Homo sapiens: one gene and its partners. The protein of the gene in region 3 interacts with the protein of the main gene of each other region in a pairwise test. Each region holds a gene or a part of one and is shown on either strand. Other genes may lie near its edges.

Evidence for each region.
Region 1: the proteins of M6PR (region 3) and NINJ2 interact in binary tests that used the Homo sapiens proteins (3 or more experiments, as listed by UniProt).
Region 2: the proteins of M6PR (region 3) and SMCO4 interact in binary tests that used the Homo sapiens proteins (3 or more experiments, as listed by UniProt).

Annotation. Positions count from the first base shown.
Region 1 is NC_000012.12:563,792-569,471, forward strand, and holds the end of NINJ2 (ninjurin-2), read right to left. Parts: intron 2,388-5,680; coding exon 2,159-2,387; exon of another isoform or gene 1,814-2,158; intron 1,611-1,813; coding exon 1,444-1,610; 3' UTR 1,426-1,443; intron 891-1,425; 3' UTR 505-890; downstream 1-504. UniProt on the Homo sapiens protein: Its role in unclear. In contrast to NINJ1 paralog, does not mediate plasma membrane rupture (cytolysis) downstream of necroptotic and pyroptotic programmed cell death.
Region 2 is NC_000011.10:93,540,388-93,547,782, reverse strand, and holds the start of SMCO4 (single-pass membrane and coiled-coil domain-containing protein 4), read left to right. Parts: upstream 1-4,391; 5' UTR 4,392-4,507; intron 4,508-7,395.
Region 3 is NC_000012.12:8,939,836-8,946,650, reverse strand, and holds the end of M6PR (cation-dependent mannose-6-phosphate receptor isoform 1 precursor), read left to right. Parts: intron 1-245; 5' UTR 246-246; coding exon 247-422; intron 423-1,066; coding exon 1,067-1,233; intron 1,234-2,740; coding exon 2,741-2,850; intron 2,851-3,066; exon of another isoform or gene 3,067-3,097; coding exon of another isoform or gene 3,098-3,115; coding exon 3,116-3,246; intron 3,247-4,108; coding exon 4,109-4,235; intron 4,236-4,710; coding exon 4,711-4,833; 3' UTR 4,834-6,290; downstream 6,291-6,815. UniProt on the Homo sapiens protein: Transport of phosphorylated lysosomal enzymes from the Golgi complex and the cell surface to lysosomes.

The DNA of each region.
Region 1 (5,680 bases), 8.4 Mb from region 3:
AGAAGGCTAGATATAGGGCCAGAACGGTTTGGTGAGCAGTGGAGAGAAGCCAACGAGTGGCTGCTTCTAAACTGGCAGACCTTCTAAAAATCATTTCTGTTTCTGAGTTGGCAATGCTTTGCTAATGCTTTACAGATTTACCTTCCTCGTTATATTTGGCCCAGGCAAAGATCAAAATGAGTTTGCAGTCCTTAAACACATGCCTAAGGGAAGCTGAGACTGAAAGCCAGAATAGCTTACAGCAGGTTCGTGGAGAAGATTGTGCATATGTGCATCCACCTGCAATGGACTAATCTACAGTTCATGGGGCAGATGACGATAAGCGCAAGACATCTGGGCCAGGAACATTGGCTCCGAGCAGAACCCACAGAGGAGGAAGTAATTTAAAAGCCTTCCCACCCTCCAGGTCTGGGGTTTGCTCTCTTGAGCCCTCTCCAAGGCACAGATGGAGACCAGCCTGGATGCCTGAGCCTGCAGGACTAGACAAGTAAGTGGACTCAAGAGTGGATTTGAAGAAACCTTTATAGATATAGATTCCATTTTACAAGAAGGGAAAATTGAGGCCTGGAGCAGAAGGAAGCAGTGGGGTAGAGTCAGAACCAGCATCCTTAAGCCGGGCAGACTTGGCCTTAGACAGACATGCCTTACTTAGGTCCAGCAGATGCTACCAGGAAGGTATGGCTGGCAGTACCTGCGTCTGAGCTCAGGACTTCAGACCAAGATGGAAGTCCCTTAGACCAATAACATAAAAATCACTTTTTAACTCAGGTGCTGTGGGTAGGGAGCAAGGGCAGCTATACTGTCCTTTCAGAAGCTCTCCTGGGCTGTGGAAAGTGCCCACGAGCCTGGCAGATCACGGAGGAAGGAGGCAGAAGTTCCAGGCCCAGAACCTGTTGAGGAAGCAGAGAAGAGGCAATGAGGATGGCAGGCCAGATCAATGCCCCTCAACCTTCAGCATGCCCAGGATGCACCTGGCCACGTTACTCATGCACGTGCCTGTAGCACGTGCTCGAGCAGAGCCTGAGATTCTGCATTTCCAGCAAGTTCCTGGGTGGTTTGTGGATGCTGCTGACCCATGGACCACAGTCAGTAGCAAGAGCTGCTAGACAATGGCAGGGAGAAATTCCCCATCTCCACCTTTCCTCTTGCCGGAGGGGCAGAGTCAACCACTAATGGCATCGCCTCCACCCTGTCCCAGACCGTGGGAAAACCTGAGCCTGAGAGCAGAGAGCCATTAACACAGCAGTGGGGCTTTGTGCAAGCCTCGCTGAGGCCAGGCTCTTGCAGATCCTCTCCTTGCTCTCGGAGCTACAGGCCTTCCCCCTTTGTTTGGCAAGGGATCTGTTTCTTGCCCCAAAGCCCCAGAGGAGAGAGAAGGGCCACCTGGGGAGTCCCTGGAGCTGGGGTTCCTCCATCCTCCCTCACCTGGGTCCCAGGCTGCATTCAGAGAGGATTCCTTGAGGCCCTGGCAGCCAGGAACCCTGTTTTATGTGCCCCGAAGGCTGTAATGAAAACATTGATGACCACAGTGAAGAAGACCAAGATGGTGGCTGCGTTGTTGAGCTGGTTGAGTCGCCACTGCTTTTCTACCTCATTCAGGTTCAGCCGTGCTGCAGGGAAGTGGAGTGGGGGGAAAGGGTCAGAGACGGGGCCACAGCACGGAGCTGCCCCCACAACACCCACCAGAGTTTGGAGAGAGGGGCCCTTCAGAAACCCATGTGGCAGAAATCAAGGGAGGTGGTCGTCATCGGGCTGAGATGCCTCTGCCCTCGCCAACCAGTACAATGGGGCACCCTAGTGTGCTTCATCCCACCAGGATTTGGGAACTTAAGCTGGGTCCTGTAAGCGTGGGGACGAGTGCTCATGGAGAAGCGGTGAGCGAGTGAGTGAGTTAGCAGTTAGCGAGGTGCTGGCGCAGTCATTCAGCAGGTACTGCGGAGGGTCTGCTCCATGGGATACCAGGAGACAGGACAGGGCGCCTGCCCTCGCGGGGTGGAAGTTGGTCTTTGGGCCTCTGTTAGCGGAGGGCTCACTGCAGGTCAGCGTGTGGTTGCAAAGCTGCCTGTGCCAATGCAGGGTGGCCCAGGGGACACGTGGGGCCTTTCTGCCAGCCACGGGTGCCGAGGCAGAAGGTCTGACTGCAGGCTGGGCTCCTCACCAATGACCACGAGCAGGACACCGATGACCACCTGCAGGAGCAGAGAGAGGCTGATGAGGGTGACCAGGGTGGTGTAGTAGTGAGAGGATGGTCCCTGCTCCAGCACCGCCTTCAGCCGCATGGCGTTGGACATGAACAGGGCCACGTCCAGCATGCTCTCCGCCACGCTCTTCTTGGTGGCGTAATGGTTCAGGTTGATGGGCTGGCTCCTGGGGTCGGAGCTTCCAGGCTGTAGGGGAGAAAGCACAGACTTACCAAGGGGAGCTCTGGAAGGGAAGCAGTTGAGAGGTGGGAGAGAGGAGAGAGGTTTTAAAGCTCTTTCCAATCCAGATGGGAAGCTCAGGGCAAATGACACCCTTAGTTTCATGGCCTGATAAAATGAAGGGTTGGACGAGAAAACCCATAAGGACCTCTGCACTCTGAAATGACATTCTGTTGCAGTTGATACTTCCTGGAGAGTCACCCCTTCCCTCACACCTTCACACATCTGGCTGGAGAAAGCCGGGAGGGTTCTCTGCTGCTGGTAAAATGCACCTTCCTCACCCTATTCACTATTTTACCTGGGCCAGGCCTCAGCTTTGGGCTGTGTTCTTTTCCTCTGAGAGGAAAGCACCTGAGAAGACAATAAAAAGAGCTTGGAGGCTTGGGTGAAATAGAGAAAGGCACCTCCTCTCGCATAATGCTGTGGCCCCCAAGGCAGGGTGCACAGCTCAGCAGCTGATCATCGGCTGGATTTCCAACCCTCAGGAGCACTGGAGCTGCCGCCCTGCTCAGGCACACACGCTGTCAGACACAGGCTCTCAGCATACACATGCATGCATGCATGAGTGTATACACACAGTAATGCATACTAGTTAAACACTCACATCATTTTAATTATTACTTTTGGCTAGGATTTATTGAAGCATAATTTACTAAAGCTTCTCCAGAAGCCACTAACTCCAAAAGACAGAATCACAATACAGGGCATATGCTGTGGGCCTCTGGGTTGGGCCAAGAATTTCAGACTGGGCGCCATGACCAAGGGCAATCTGCAGTCACTCAAGAGTACTTGGAAGATTGATTTAGCAGTGGTGCTTGGAACAGACTGGGCCAGGAAGGGCTAGAAGCAGGGAGAGTCATTTAAAAGTTATAGTATTGATTTAGGATCAGGGTGAAAAGGAACTGAAGTGGAGCAAGGTGAGACAGGAAGGAATGGAGGACTCTGAAGGATGCTACGGCCTGGAGGTAGGGAAGATGACCCAGCAGATCACCATGACAGGACAGATACCTGCAGAGTGGGGAGAGACGGATGGATTGAAGGATGCTATGGCCTGGAGGTAGGGAAGATGACCCAGCAGATCACCACGACAGGACAGATACCTGCTGCGTGGGGACAGATGGATGGATAGATGGATGCGTGCCTATATATGCACAGTGATGCATACCAGTTAAACACTCGTAATTTGTTTTTAATTTTTTTGGCTAGGATTTATTGAAGCATAATTTACATTTGATTTTGTTTTGAAGTATAAAATAAAGCTTCATGGATGAAGGGATGGATGGATGGATGGAGAGATTGGTGGGTGGATGGATGGATGCGTGGATGATTGGATAGGCAGGTCTCAGAGGGTCTGGAATGTTCCTTGTACTTCGTGCAGCCCCAGCAAGTCACTTCACTTCTCTGTACCTCAGGGATTTACACAGAGGACAGTTGATTTACACATAGGCTAACTGATTTACCTATCTATCAGAACCTTTGGATTCTATGAGCCCTTAGGATACCCCGAAATGAGGCTGGGTGCAGTGGCTCATGCCCGTAACTCCAGCACTTTGAGAGGCCAAGGCAGGGGGATCATTTGAGGTCAGGAGTTTGAGACTAGCCTGGCCAACATGGCAAAATCCCGTCTCTACTAAAAATACAAAAAAATCAGCTGGGTATGGTGTCACACGCCTGTAATCCCAGCTACTCAGGAGGCTGAGGCAGGAGAATCACTTGAACCAGGAGGCAGAGGTTGCAGTGAGCAGAGATCGCACCATTGCACTCTAGCCTGGGTGGCAGAGTAAGACTCTTGTCTCAAAACAAAAACAAAAACAAAACTCTGAAATGCAGTAGTCTCCAGACTTTCTTGATAGTGTAATCTCAGCATTAAAAACTGTTTTGGCCATGCATCCTCAATATATGTACATTCTTCCATTATCAACTATACATATTTTTATTGGACTAATTATATATATAGTAAAATATGCAAAAGTAGAAACATTTGAAAGGATTACATAAAATTCAATATAAATAGAAGTTTAATTTTCTTATCCTAAAATATGGTCTTGGGCACTCGTCTTTGGAGATCCAGCTCTAATCCACATGCCTGGCTACAGATTGGACCAATCCTCTCCTAGGCCAACAGAAGGGAGCCTCTCTTCCCCAGTCCTTCTCCTAACGTTTGCCTTCAAAACTCAGCCCCACGTCTCCACCCTGCTCTTCTCACTTCCTTTCCAAGCTCCTGGCCCTTTGCTCTGTTTGCCAGGAGGGTGCACACACACAGACACATTCAAGAGGCACAGGGTGGTCATGGGTGCTAACAGCACCTGCTCTGATGGAATCCACCCTGGCAGCCTGTGCCCCGCAGGCTGCCCCTCTCTGACTCTGTGGACCAGTCATTGGAGGATCAAACATATAGGAGTGGCTCTTTCACTCTGACCACACTCCAGGCCATCAGCTTTCTACACGGGGCAGTTCCCTGCACCTGGGTTGTTCATTATTGAGATTCCGAGTGTCCTCAACTTCTGGACGGGGCAGGACTCACAGAGGGTAATCAGGAGTGTGCACTTTGGCCAGTGGAGCAATTTAAACACTTTCTCTGGGAGAGTAGAATGGAGACCAGCGGGTAGCATTCATTCAATAGATTGACTGTACATGCCAGGCGGTGCTTGGGGCTGTGAGGACACCCCCCCCCCCCCGCCCCCCGGGTAAGCACTGGGCCACAGGCTGCTCACAACAGGCCCTGGCAAACTCCTTTTGACAGCCACCAAAATCAGGCTGGGGCCCAGGGCCCACAGAAATAAGAAAAAAGGCCATAGGCACGAAAGGAATGGAGTGCTCACTATCTCTCCCATCTTCCTTCGTGTTTGATTTTGCTGGGGCCGGGGTTTCAGCTGGTGCTGGGGGCAGCCAGTGAGGTTGGAGGAGGTAGGGATGGAGGGTAAATGAGGACCTGCATGGACTTGGGAGGCCACACACGGCGTTCAGGGCCTTTGGAAATCCAGTTCAAGCAAGGCTGGCTTGTCTAGGGCCAGCTGGCATGGTTGGTTAGGGCCAGGGATCCCAGGGCCAACACTTCACAAAGGCCCATGGTCGCCGTCAGCCCCAAGGCTGCAACCTGTGGTCTTAGCCCATTTGGTGAAGGTTTGTCCTCGGTCTCCAAGAGCACTCATTAGGCAAGAGAGTCTCACCCCCTGCACCCAAATTCAAAGTGTCTCTGCCCAGGTTCAACTGTGCCCCCTGGCCTCCCTGCCCCATGGCTGTGCCACCCCTCCTGTCTC
Region 2 (7,395 bases), on a different chromosome or scaffold from region 3:
ACTCATTATATTCTCTTTGTCTTTTCTCCTTCTTCCTACAAAGTTAATATCACATGGATTAAGTCAGAAGACTCACAAGGCTTATATTATTCATTCATTTGTTTGCTCATTTATTGATTGATTTAATACATATTTATTGAGTTCCTGTATGCACCAGGCTCCATGCTAGGTATTGAAGGTATAGTAGTGGGCAAGCAAACGCAGTCCCTTTTCTCGTGGAGGGAGAATTCGAGAGACACAAACACATGAGAATATGTAACTATAAAAATATGATGAGAACAGTGAAAAAAACAAGGAGTGTCATGAAAGCGTGCAACAGATGGGGTGGTTAAGAAAAGCTTCTCTGAGAAGACGACATTTAAGGCAAGGCCCGAGAGATTATGTAGTGGACATTCACTGGTTTTGTTATCCTTGATCAACTTTCCCTTCTTTGGTAACAATGCCCTGATGATTATGTTTGGAGGCTTTCATTCAAGGTGTCCTGTTCTTCTCTGGCTGAGGGTAGGCATGTGGCCAAGCTAACCAAGGCTGACGTTCTTCTAGGGTTTGGAATCTTGAGTGGAGTGATGCAAAAACAGAAAAACCAGAGTGGCTTGTTCCACTGGTTGAGCCTCAACAAGGTGTCTGTTAGGAATCAAATCTCCATAAGATTCCTGAGCTGTTTGGTCTTTGAGCTTTCCAAAACTTGGCTGAAGAGACTGAGAGCTACCTCTATGTGCACCAAATTTTTTTGTTTACATTATTTCCCAAATAATGTACCACAGAACTCTAATGGGTTCTGGAAAGCGGGATTTAGCAAAGTGAAGAGTTTGGGAAAGAGCACGTCAGTGGAAGGAACAGCATGTGGAAGGGGCTTTCTGTGAAGAAGAGAAGAGCTTGCTGGTTTGGGGAACAGAAAGAAAGCCAGTTGGGCAAAGTGTGCTGAGTGAGGGGCAGAACAGTACCAATATCTCTGTAGGGGCAAGCTGCACCAGACCTCATGGGGCCATGTATAATCGTTTAGATTTTATCACCAGCACATAGGAAAGTTACAGACATATTTTGAGCATGGGAAGAATATTTTAAATAGCAAAAATGTCACAAAGGAAAAACAGAAGAGTTCAACTAACAGCGTAAAGAACTGTGAATTGGTCATCCCAGTTCTGCTCTGAGCCAGCTCCAGGACCTTGGATATTTGTAAGGCTCTGATGATTTCTCTTAGCCCCAGTTTTCTCATCTGTAAAATGAGGTGGTGGGTTAGATGATCTCTAACTCCATCTCTGATGTTTCGTGATCTATGATAAAACCATGCCAATAAATGTAATTGTCATTAAGGAGCTTACAATCAAGTGGGAGAGATAAACACACCTAACCTCTATGATACCTGCTGTTGATGTTCCAGGGAGTTCTAACGTTTAAAGCTTTTGGTAGCTTACAAGCTGATTTTGCCAGCCCATTGTTATGTTGACTGCCAAAGGATTTTAAACAGTACTAGGCTCAGTAACCAATTCAATGAAGAACTTTCAAAGAGGGTATTTACATGAAGTGTGATGCTCTGCTAAGCTTAGATTTAGTGACTTCAACTGAATGCTTCATAACAGAAAACGCTAGCAAGAGTACTGATTCTTGGGTGAATTTCATCTAGAACTTGTAACTGCAGGAGTGCCTGTGAGTGATCTGTGTGTCAGTTATCTATTACTGTATAACAAACCACCCTAACACTTAGTGATTTGAAACAACCACCATTTTATTTCTCACAATTCCTGGGTTGGCTGGACTATTTTTGGCTGGCTTTCCCTGGAGCTCACTCATGTGGCTGAGAGCTGGTGGGCTGCATAGCTGGGACAGCAAGGCTTTCTCTTCTCAGGGTCTTTCCTCTTCAAGGAGTTGGACCAGGTTTCTTCATGGCAGTCTCAGGATAGCATTTCAAGAAAGCAAGGAGCAAGGCACAAGTGCACATCGAAAGCCCCTGCTTGTGTCATATTTGTTCATGTCCCAGTAGCTAAAGGAAGTCACAAGGCCAACTCCAGGGTCAACGTGGGAGGGAGCTACAGAAGGACAACTCAGTAGGGGTGATTCATTAGAAGCCATTAGTGTAAAATGTGTAAACTTTTCCTCTGAGACTTGCATTGCAAGATACACAACTCTAACCTATAAAGGATGACACTTTCTTTTTCTTTTCTCTCTCTCTCTCTTTTTTTTTTTTTTTTTTTTTGAGACAGAGTTTCACTCTTGTTGCCCAGGCTGGAGTGCAGTGGCATGATCTCAGCTCACTACAACCTCCGCCTTCTGGGTTCAGGTGATTCTCCTGCCTCAGGCCTCCCAAGTAGCTGGGATTATAGGTGCCTGCCACCACGCCCAGCTAGTTTTTGTATTTTCAGTAGAGACGGGGTTCATCGTGTTGGCCAGGTTGATCCCGAACTCCTGACCTCAGGTGATCCACCCACCTCGGCCTCCCAAAGTGCAGGGATTACAGGGGTAAGCCACCACGCCCAGCCAAGGATGGCACTTTCACAGACACAATATCTATGTTATTACTACTATAAGGGAGCATGTGGAGTCACCTTATTAAGGGACTGAGTCCTACATCAGTGGCTCTGCTTGCCTCATAAAATTATTCATTAATTTTTAGCAGTGGCCTTGGGAAGTTGTGTACATAATATTTAGAGGAAAATGGCATTTACAATGATAATGAATTAAAGCAATTCACACGGCAGTACCACTGCCCCAATTTAAACCTTGAGGCTTGCTAATTTCATATTTAGCTGCATCCCATATGCTCCCAATCCCTCTGCCCTAGTGTGGAGCTACAGCTCAAACTCCTTTGAAGGTAGGAAACTTACCTCACACACGCGTGTTCCCCTCATTCTTTCAGCGCATAGAACACTAAAAAGATGCTCCTTAAATACATGCTAAATAAACTGATCAATAGTTGCCTTTTATTAAATATCTTTGTGTTTCAGGTATTTCCTTATTTCCTTCACAGACCGGATCATGAATGATCTCCCAATGTGACAAGGTCTTATTCTCCACAGTTTACCGTTGAGGGGACTGAGGTGCAGAAAGCCCAAGGTGTATGCAGCCCAATCCCCTCTGATCCCACTCTACTGCATTGCTGCCTTTTGTACGCAGCAGGAAGGACACTTCCTGTAAAAATGAAAAAAAAAGCCTTAAGTTGTTTGAGAGAGGGTCAGGAAGAAAACAGGAAGAGCCAGTAGACTGCAGGTGCTTTCAAAGGGCTCCCTGTCTTTGACATCCCTAAAATAAAAACTTGTTAATTAAGAGATTGGCCACAGAAATCCAGGTGGAAAACCTGCAGAAGAGTGGGTTCCACAATTCTTCAAAACAGAACAAAAAAACCCCAAGACTTGTTATATTTTTACCGGTGGAGGGGAAGAGGTTACAGGAGTGGCCTTGCTCCCCGGGCTGGCCTTGCTGAGCAGGTGACAATACCACACATATAAAGGTTTTAAGGTGAAAAGGTAGTCAATATTTTACATTTCGAAGATAGTTTTTAAAATCACCTACTGCATCAGTAGTAATACAACAATAACTACCATTTACATACCACCGCACACATCGGGGCTGCGTAAAGAACTTTATAGTGCACCATCTCAATTAATTCTCACAACTCTGTGAAGTAGGTTTTATTATTCTTAATTTATAGACGTGTTCACTGTGGGCCAGGGAGATGAGCTTTCCCGCGATTGCCCAGCTTTTAAGAGGTAGATCTCAAACCTAAACGTGTTTGACCAAAAGCCCTGAATAACATTTAGCCGTGGGCCTCTTGCGGATTTGGCGCTGGTCCGAGGTGGGGAATTGTGAATCTCATTTATTTATGCTGAGCTGCGCACACATATGCACGTGTAAGTTACAAAAAACAAATCCAGGTCAGGATCTCTGTCCGCTTGAGGTTTCAAAGCCTACTTGGGTAGACAGCGGTAAAAGTCTCAACTCATTCATCTACTCGTTTGCTCTCTTCACAAGTATTTATTGCGCACTTCAGTATTCCAGACAGGGCGCTAACCTTGCCCTGGAGGAGAGAATGGTGAACACAACAGACATGGCGTTTGCCTCCAACTATCCCCTTTCCGATTCTGCTATCTCACGGGCGAGGCGTTCAAAGAAGCAGGAAATATATCAACAAGGGGGTGACTTAAGCACCCGCTGCGCGGGAGCCGGAGGAAGCGCGCTGAGCCTGCAGAGGTGGTCAGGGCGAACTTCCTGGAGGCAGCGGCAGCAGCAGGCCGGGCGAGAACCCAGGTCGCTCGGAAGCGACAGTCTGAGCCGGGAACGGGGAAGAGGGGGCGGGAGCCGAGGCCCGGGCGGGGGCAGCCAGCGAGTTAGGGTTAGGACGGGAGGATTCGGCTTCCCGGCGGCAGAGGGCGCCTGGCGCTGCGGTCTGGCGCGCCAGAGTCGCCCGCGCGGGCGCCGAGAGGAGAGGCGAGGCGGGGAGCGCAAGCGGCGGCGGCCACTGCCACGTATTCCCGGCAGTGGTGGCGGCGGCGGCGGCGGCGCCCGCGGGCAGGTGGGCTGGGAGCGGCGCGGCGGCGGCGGCGGCGGGGCGGGCGAGCCGGCGGGCGGGCGCGGGGCACGGGGCACCGGGCACCGGGCGGGGGTGCGGCGCCGGGACAGTACGGTTCCCGCCACGCCGGCTCCGCCTCCGCGCAGTGCTGCTGACCCAGGCCTGGGCGCCCGGCGGGTCCCGAGCGCAACTCGTGCGGGCGGGGTTGGGGGCCCGAGGGACTCGAGCTCGCCTGCCCGTCGCGGCTCGAGACGCTGCATCCCGGTTGCTGCGGGGCGGGGGCTGGGAAAAGTTGGGGCGGACCGCGAGCCCGCGGGGCCGGGCGGGAAGTGCGGGTGCGGGGCGGACTCAGGGGCCGGGGGACGCAGTGCAAAGGGCTTGGGCCGGGGCGGCCGGGAGGGCCCCGTATGGGAAGGTGGGAAACGCGGGTCCTTTGAGGACGCCGAGAAAGGGGTGCGCTCAGGGTCTCTGGGAGTGGACAAGAGTCCGGCGGCGGACCTTGCGGGTGAGAAGGGTCGGCGCCTGGGGGTCGGGGAGTAGAGGTGAGGCGGGGGCGGGATAGAGCCTTCCTCCTCCCCCGTTCTTTCGGGACCGACCCTGAGACCCGGGGCAGGCTCCGAGCTGGGTACGCCTCTGGCATCTGAAGACCCAGTGGGGAGTTCCTGTACGGGGTGGGTGGAGGAGGGAGCTGAGCGTTGCTTCCTCTGCTGCTGGGGCCGACTACCGCCCCTCCCCAGCGGCCAGATTCACCTCAGACTGCAGTGCTTTTGCCCTGAGGAAGTTGAGGAGGGACAGCTGAGCGGATGAGATGTTTGGGGTGTTCCAAGATGAGTGGGATTAGGCTGCATGATATCATAACTATCTCCGGGAGCTGTCAGAAAACACTCCCATGTCCTCATACACCCACCCATCCACTCATCCAGTCAGTACTGCCAAGCTCCAGGCTCCCTTGCTCTTTAAGTGACACCTCTAGATCCCCAGAGCCCAACAGCGCATCTGCTCACAGCCTCGAGGGTGGCAAGGGTGGAAGACATGGCCTGCTAGTGTCTGCGTAGGTTGGTGCTTTCAGAAACAAGTGGTTCTGGAGGTGCTGGATGCTTTATTAGAACAACCTGTGTGGAGCCCGTTGACAATGCAGATGACTCATGTTGGCTTTTTTTTTTTCCCCTTTACAAATAAACTTTGTATTCAAGACACCAGTATGCCTGGTCATTTGCAGCAGTGATACGGCAAGAGACCCATAGTGGGCTTCTTGAGCCCTTATTCTCGTCCTAGATGTGTTAGCAAGAAGTTTGACCTTGGATGAGTCACTTGCTCTCTCTGGACTTCTGTTTTCTTATCTGTCACATGGGGTATAAAGAGAGAGCTCGACAGTGTGATGTAGACAGGAGTAGGTTTCTGAGGGACACAGTGAAATCTTTTTTCTTGTAAGGCTGGATCAGCCACAGAAAATAAGCCTTAGCCTGTTCTTATAAAGAAATTAGCTTAGATTTAAAATAAAATATGAGAAGAAATATTGCAAAAAGCAAAACAACAAAAAACTAATAGTAGTTGGTACTCGATTTACAACATGAATACTGTTCTTATGCTTGCAGTTAGTGTACTTGGTTGTCCAGCTATCTACTATAAAGTTGCTCATTGTGCTTAGAAAGTGTGTATTTCACCTGTGGACCCGAATTTTTTCTTATTGTTTAATCTTCAAGCTTGGAGTGGACGCTCAAGCTTGGAGTTGGATTGGTCCTGCTGGGGTTTGTCTGAAGAACATCCTCAGGGTCTCTCATTGCATAATATTATAGGTTTCCTTCTGTCTGACTGATGCTGGGGTCCTTGTACAACTATGCTTCTGCCATCTTTTCCATTCTGGCTTGAGAAGTGGTGAGCTGGTTCCTCTTGCCTCTGGCATGCCCAGACTTCTCATTTCTTTTCAGATGAGTGTAGTAAAAGGCAAGCAGTGAGTTAGAGGCAGCACATTAAAAATTGCTCCAGGCAATCATCTGTGTCCCCTCCACCCCGCTCCTGTCCCCTAGACCCCCTGGGCAACTTCTCACTAGAGCTTCCTGGTCATAAGCTGGCCTTGACATTTTGGGTGCTGAGGGCCATCACAGCATTGAAGTGACTTGGCCAGGGTCACACCACACATTAATGATCAAGCCATGGTGCTGGAAGAAGAGGAATTTTTTTTGTGTGTGTATTTTGTCATAACTGAATGTTCCTGTTCTTGTCCATTAGTAGCTTTCAAAATCCATATTGGGTTTGACCACATCATTTTCAGTAATCCTTTTTTGTCAGCTTTTTGGAAGCTGCAGTTAGTGGTTCTCTCTGAGTTTGAGGTAGTGGTATTTTATTATTAAACAATTTTTTCCAAATATTTTTTAAACTACTTTCCTTTTCAGACCAGATGAGGTAGTGTTAAAAATGATATCTTCTCCAACAAGTAAAGGCTTGATTAATTAGGTTGAGTCTTTAAAATATCTAGTGTTTGTGTGTGTATAAATTTTACTTTAATTGAGAAGTATTGATAAAAATCATAATCGTCACCATTTGAGCCCCTGCCATTGAGCAGGCATTGTGAGGTAGGAGTGAGCATCATTTTACAGGAGAGAAAACAAAGCCAAGAGATGGCACGACTCTGGTACAGCTGTCGTGCATAAGTTACTGATGATCTTTCAATCCATGTACCATTTTGTTAACAGTGGAAAAGGAATTCTCAGCTATCCTACAGGGTTGTGCTAGTTAAATGAGATACTGTATGTGAAGAGCAACAAGTAAACTCTTAACGGGCTCCCTAACCCAGCACATTTTAACATAAACACTTGTAGACTCTGGAAGCAGTGTGGTGAAGTGGTTAAGTTCAAGCGTCTTGGGAGTCTGGCAGGCCTGGGTGTAAATAC
Region 3 (6,815 bases):
CTTTGTAGTTTGTTCTGAAAGACTCACCTATACATTAGACTACAAGTTACATATAAATGAATTTTCTGCTGCAGATGCTCTTGTTACAGAGATATTAAAATGTACTATGTGTTGCATATGCCAGAGAATCTTGTACTTTCTGGATAATTAAAATACCATCGATTTATTACACATTCATACGCTTTATCTCTTTCCTCTCTCTCCTGATCCTACCTGCCCTCCCCAACACACACTCTCTCCCAAAGGATGTTCCCTTTCTACAGCTGCTGGAGGACTGGACTGCTACTACTACTCCTGGCTGTGGCAGTGAGAGAATCCTGGCAGACAGAAGAAAAAACTTGCGACTTGGTAGGAGAAAAGGGTAAAGAGTCAGAGAAAGAGTTGGCTCTAGTGAAGAGGCTGAAACCACTGTTTAATAAAAGGTAAATGAGAAGAACCTTAAAGAGCTTGAGAAAATATTTATGTTAAAGTCTTTTCTTCTTACTGATTTTATTTCATAATGTGCTCTCTTTTATGACATAGAGCAAATTCTCAGCCCAGTTTTTAGTTGCTGTGTGCAGTTTTCTCATCTTTCACAGAAGTGTAGCTATTTCCAAGACTGGATCCAAGAGACCAGCTTGTAGAAATTTAAGGATTATTTGACACCTACATATAATAGGACTTTAGAAATATCAGATAAACATATTTAGGCCGACACATGTCATTATAAGTGTCAGGAACCTTCAGATATATAAATCTGAAGTTGGTCCCTAAGAAACGAGACTATCCGATGAACATGGGCCCTTATTCATTGGAACATGGTTACTAACAGGCATTCTAAAAATAACTAGAATATTGAGCTATCAAGATAGCTCAAGTGTGTTTTAATAATTCATCATCAGCAATAAGGATGGTCTGTCAAGGTTATGAATATCTTAAAATTAAACAAATATTCACTCAGCCATGACCTCAAATAAATAAATCGAGCATGTTGTTTGTTTTGTTTTAATTAAGGAAAGGGATGCTGTTATTCCTGAGGCTGATAGCTAGTAACTCTCCTCTTCTTTCTTCCCACTTCTCTTTACAGCTTTGAGAGCACTGTGGGCCAGGGTTCAGACACATACATCTACATCTTCAGGGTGTGCCGGGAAGCTGGCAACCACACTTCTGGGGCAGGCCTGGTGCAAATCAACAAAAGTAATGGGAAGGAGACAGTGGTAGGGAGACTCAACGAGACTCACATCTTCAACGGAAGTAAGAAAACTCCCCTTCCTACCATCGATTGACTAACTGATCCCAAGTCAATCCCTCTGACAATCCTGTATGTCTTGGCCGTTTCTAGTGTCTTCAGCATATCATACGTGTGGTTCGGCACACCTGAGACTGTAATATACCACAGGATGCCTAATTCCACAGCTCCTCTGTAAGCCACAGCTCAGGACAGTTGTGCATTAAAATCAGTGAAAAACTTATGCAAAATGAAGACTCTAGCCAGAATTGTTTTGTTTTGTTTTGAGACGGAGTCTCTCTCTGTCACCCAGCCTGGAGTGCAGTGGCACAATCTCGGCTCACTGCAACCTCAGCCTCTTGGGTTCAAGCGATTCTCCAGCCTCAGCCTCCTGAGTAGCTGGGACTACAGGTGTGTGCCATCATGCCCAGCTAATTTTTGTATTTTTAGCAGAGACAGGGTTTCACAATGTTGGCCATGATGGTCTTGATCTTTGACCTCGTGATCTGCCCACCTTGGCCTCCCAAGGTGCTGGGATTACAGGCATGAACCACCGCGCCCAGCCAACTCTAGCCAGAATTCTGTAGCCTAGAGTCCTTTTATTCACCCAAATACTTTTAATGAGTTTCACACTAGACTTACAAATACCAACCACCACCACCACTTTTCATCAAATTAATCAAAGTTTACCAGTTAAATTTTAAGAGCTCAAACTTTTTTTTGCAAACTACTCAGTCTGCAAAACTTTACCCACTGATTTTTGTGCTATGGTGGTGATATTTCTTAAAAGTCATATTGCTGGAGAGGACCATGTAAGCACCTATGGTCCAATTCCCTCCCATACAGATAAATAAGTTATACAAGGTAGCTATTTACTCCTGGTAAATAATACAATAAAAAAGTAACAAAAGGGTTTGGGGCTGGGGATCATGTGACCAGGTTCTCCTCCTGTTTCCTAATCCTGTGACTGGAAAGTCGTATCACCTTTTGACCTTGTTTTCTCATATGCAAAACTAGGAGCAGAATCTTTACCTTATTCACCTCACAATTACTGAATCAAATGATATTTTGCAAAAGAACTGAACACAGTAAATACTAAAGAAGAGATATGCATTCCAATCTTAGATATCCACTCTGAATTTATCTGGGGCTAAGTTGAAATCTTAGATGGGCTTACCCCTGCTGCTCAGCAATTGTATGGAACCTCTTTTTTTGCTTTTAGAAGGTATTCAGAAAATGAATCAGTGTTAAGGTATGGATCATAATTGGTTTTGCATTGTCAGTTGCCTACCTTTAATGTTAAAAATTAAGATTATTCTTAAATGAATATCTGATTCTTGTCTTAAGGGAACACAAGTCTTTGTAAGCAAACAAGTTTAGCTTGGCATTTCTGGTATACCAAGTTCGTACTGATGAGGGTTGTTTAGTTATAACCAATTGCAATGAATTACGCAATTCCACTCTGCCATACCACCCAGATCTGCCTCTGCTTTTCCCCCACCCCATAGCTCCATTTTCCTTGTCCCTCCTCAGGTAATTGGATCATGCTGATCTATAAAGGGGGTGATGAATATGACAACCACTGTGGCAAGGAGCAGCGTCGTGCAGTGGTGATGATCTCCTGCAATCGACACACCCTAGCGGTGAGGCACCCTGTGTTGTATAAGCCGAGGGAGGAGACTGAAAGGACTGACCTGAGGTTGGGGAGAATATCCAGAGGGGACACGATACGTTGGGATGGACATTAGAAAACTAGGAGCTCAGTTTCTCTCTGTGTCAGACACGCATCTTCCATGGAAAATAGGCTGCTGAACCAGGAAGGAGCAGATGTTTTTTGGGTTTTTTATTTTGTTGGACAGGAGTCAAAACACTTAACCACCTGAATGTGTTATGCCATCTCATCATCAGGACAATTTTAACCCTGTGTCTGAGGAGCGTGGCAAAGTCCAAGATTGTTTCTACCTCTTTGAGATGGATAGCAGCCTGGCCTGTTCACCAGAGATCTCCCACCTCAGTGTGGGTTCCATCTTACTTGTCACGTGAGTATGCCTTCCTTTATCAGAACAGACCTTCCTTCCTTTTGTTTTTAAGGTCAGTAACTATATGGTGGTACATAAGCACAAATTGTATGTGTACATTATGCTGTAATTGATGGGGATAACTTTTTAAATCCTCTGGCTATAAAATAATTCTGCCAGGACACAGGGCTCACGCCTGTAATCCCAGCACTTTGGGAAGCCAAGGCAGATGGATCACCTAAGGTCAGGAGTTTGAGACCAACCTGACCAACATGATGAAACTCCGTCTCTACTAAAAATACAAAATTAGCCAGCACAGTGGCACATGCCTGTAATCCCAGCTACTTGGGAGGCTGAGGCAGTAGAATCACTTGAACCTGGGAGGTGGAGGTTGCAGTGAGCTGAGGTCGCACCACTGCACTCCAGCCTGGGCAACAAGGGCAAAACTCCGTCTAAAAAAAAAAAAAAAAAAAATTCTGACTGCAAGTTTTTGAAAAATGAGATTTAATGTTTAGTTGCCGGTATAGATTTGCATTTGGAGGTGCTTTTTTCCCCTACTGCAGGACTAGGCAATTTTTATATTATTTCATTAGATTATGAGAACTTCTAGAGAAATGGAATCATATACTTAATGGTGATTATTCTTGGCCATAGAATCACACGCTGTCACATTTTGTCTGGGCCTTTGCTTCTCTTGGACTGACAGCACTCTAACTGGTTTTCTAAGAGTTACCAGCCCCCTTTTTCATTTAGTATCACTACTCATTTTTCCTTTTCAGGGAATGTATCTTAGGAAACAGCTGACAATAAATGCAGAGGTTATCCTATCTGAGTTTTTACTATTTCCCAGTTCTTAAGTATAGATGTCTTTCTCTCTCTACAGGTTTGCATCACTGGTTGCTGTTTATGTTGTTGGGGGGTTCCTATACCAGCGACTGGTAGTGGGAGCCAAAGGAATGGAGCAGTTTCCCCACTTAGCCTTCTGGCAGGATCTTGGCAACCTGGTAGCAGTAAGTAACAGGGCAGCTGGTTGAATTTGTAGCCTGCAAACAAGGTTGGGTGACCAACCATCCTCGTTTGTTCACACTGAGGGGGTTCCTGGGACACAGGACATTGAGTGCTAAAACCACAAAAGTCCCAGCAAACAAGACAGTTGCCCTAGTACAGAGTAGTAAGTGGCACAGCATCCATTTCTGGCCTTGGTAAGACATTGCTGAAAGAGCAACACTGTTGACCAGATGGGCTCTTCTAAATCTGATTTAGCTTTTAAGAGGGCCTGGGTGGGAAGAAGGTGAGGCCTAATAAGAAGAAACTTTTTCTCCTGTTGCCCCAAATTGAATTTAGGCTGATTGTCAGATCTTTTAGGTTTTCTCATTATCCCTATAGAAAACCAATTCTTGCCACATTCCTAGACCATAAGTACACTTTCTCATATCCTAAAGTTAGATGCTGCGAATTATTTCCTTCTTTTTTTTCCCCCTACAGGATGGCTGTGACTTTGTCTGCCGTTCTAAACCTCGAAATGTGCCTGCAGCATATCGTGGTGTGGGGGATGACCAGCTGGGGGAGGAGTCAGAAGAAAGGGATGACCATTTATTACCAATGTAGATTGCACTTTATATGTCCAGCCTCTTCCTCAGTCCCCCAAACCAAAGCTACACAGCCAGATTTCTCAAGCAGTCTCAACTCCAGTCCCTCATCTCACCCTTACTATTGCTCTTGCTTTCCAGTTTGCTTTTGATTTGCATCTTCTCACTAGTAAAACTGCCTTCCCTTTGTTCCTTATTTTCTGTTTTTTCTCTAGAGAGGTACAGTTGTAAGTCAGAGTTAATATAATAGGGCCTGTGAAAACAGAGGCTTTTGCATTGTCTCTTGACATCAGAAGTTACAATAGGCATATGGGCAAAATGGTGTAGCAGGCTCACTGGCCGTTTGTTTTTTAAACACATTTTCACAAGTTTTTGAGACACTGGATTTCTTTAATTAAAAAAAAAATGCCAAGAAACATTATTTATACAGGGTTGATTGCTTTCATGTTGTTATTCTGTACCCTATAGTAGCCTCCATGAGAATCTGGTATTTCTTGCTGCTTGGAACTACTTTGCAGTGATTACTTGGTTGCAGTCCAAGTACTCTCGTTTAGTCTGAGCCTGGAGATGTTCTAGACTTGCTTCTCCCACCTCTGAGATTAGGACAGGAAAAATGTGAAATTTCCCAATTACAGGATTATACGGTACCATCACATCATTTGTGGAAATTGGGGTGACTGTATAGCTGGGATTGGGCTAAGGACTGTGGTCTTATCTGTCCACATACAGCCAAAATGCCTATCCAGAAATCCAGTTCGTTGGAAAGGAAAATTGGTACTCCTGTGCCACAGGGGTTCCAGAAAAGGGAAGTCACTTTACCTTGCGGTGGTGGGATCCTGATGTCTTTCATCCATTTGTAGTAAAAGCTGGTAAAGCTTTTCTTACTCCTGGTTCCCTACCAGTATTTCTAAACATGTCGCACTTTCTCCACAGGCATGTGGTTTTGACCTTTTTTTCAATCTTCTAGAAAGGGAACGGAAGCAGAAGTGGGACATCGAGGGCTCTGCTGTCCTCTGCGCTGGGTGTGGAATGCTGCTGCACCTGTCCCTTCTGCTGGCTCAGGGAAGTGTCTTCTTGCCCACATTTCTGTGGGGAAAGGTTTTTAATCCTCTGATGCTTCCATCTTCCTGTTTAGGCCATGTGCCCAGAAACCTGGACTGATCTTTCTTTAATAGTGAACCCCTGGGCCACTGAAGAGTAACATGGCTCCACTGGACACAAAAGAGGGATGGAATCAACAGGCAGGGGGCCTTTTATAAGCCTTAGGAAAAGAAAATGAAACTATTTCATCTTTGGACTTTTCAATACTATTGGAGTGATTTTTTTCTTTCTAAACAGGGAAAATAATGTTACAAAAGCATCTTTTTTGTTATTTGTTTGCATCCCTCCCCCACACCCTGGTGTTTTAAAATGAAGAAAAAAAACCATCACCTTTTGTACAAAAACTCTTAATGATTAAAAAACAAACAAAACATATTGGCCTTGTCATTTGTGTGAAAGTGGGCAAAGACTGGAATAGAGTAAGACAACTGAAACCAATTTTCATCCTTTTACTGAGGAAAAAAATATTTAATATTTTTGTTATATAAGGAATAGTGCCTAAGGCAGGTACTTATACTCCTGACCTCAGCCCCACACACTCTGGTTTTATAAAGCTATAGGACAGAGCAGAGATGGAACTGAAAAACAGGGTAGAAAATAACATAAATTGGAGGGGAACAGTGGGATGCAGAAAGAATGACAACAGCCACATGTGCCCCAGTCAAATACTTTTAGTCCCTGCAGCAGAAGATGCCAACCAAGTCTCTATACTGGCTGGGGATCCTGCCATGGATGCAGGAGAAAAAATTCAATCACAAGGGAGTAAGTGACAACAAAAAGAAAAAACTCTGAGCCACAGCTACACTGGGAGGGGGGAGGACCAGATTTTGCTACTTCTGTCACACAAGCTAGAAAAACCCTACCTCTCCCATTGGGCAGGCAACCTGACATTCCACCCAG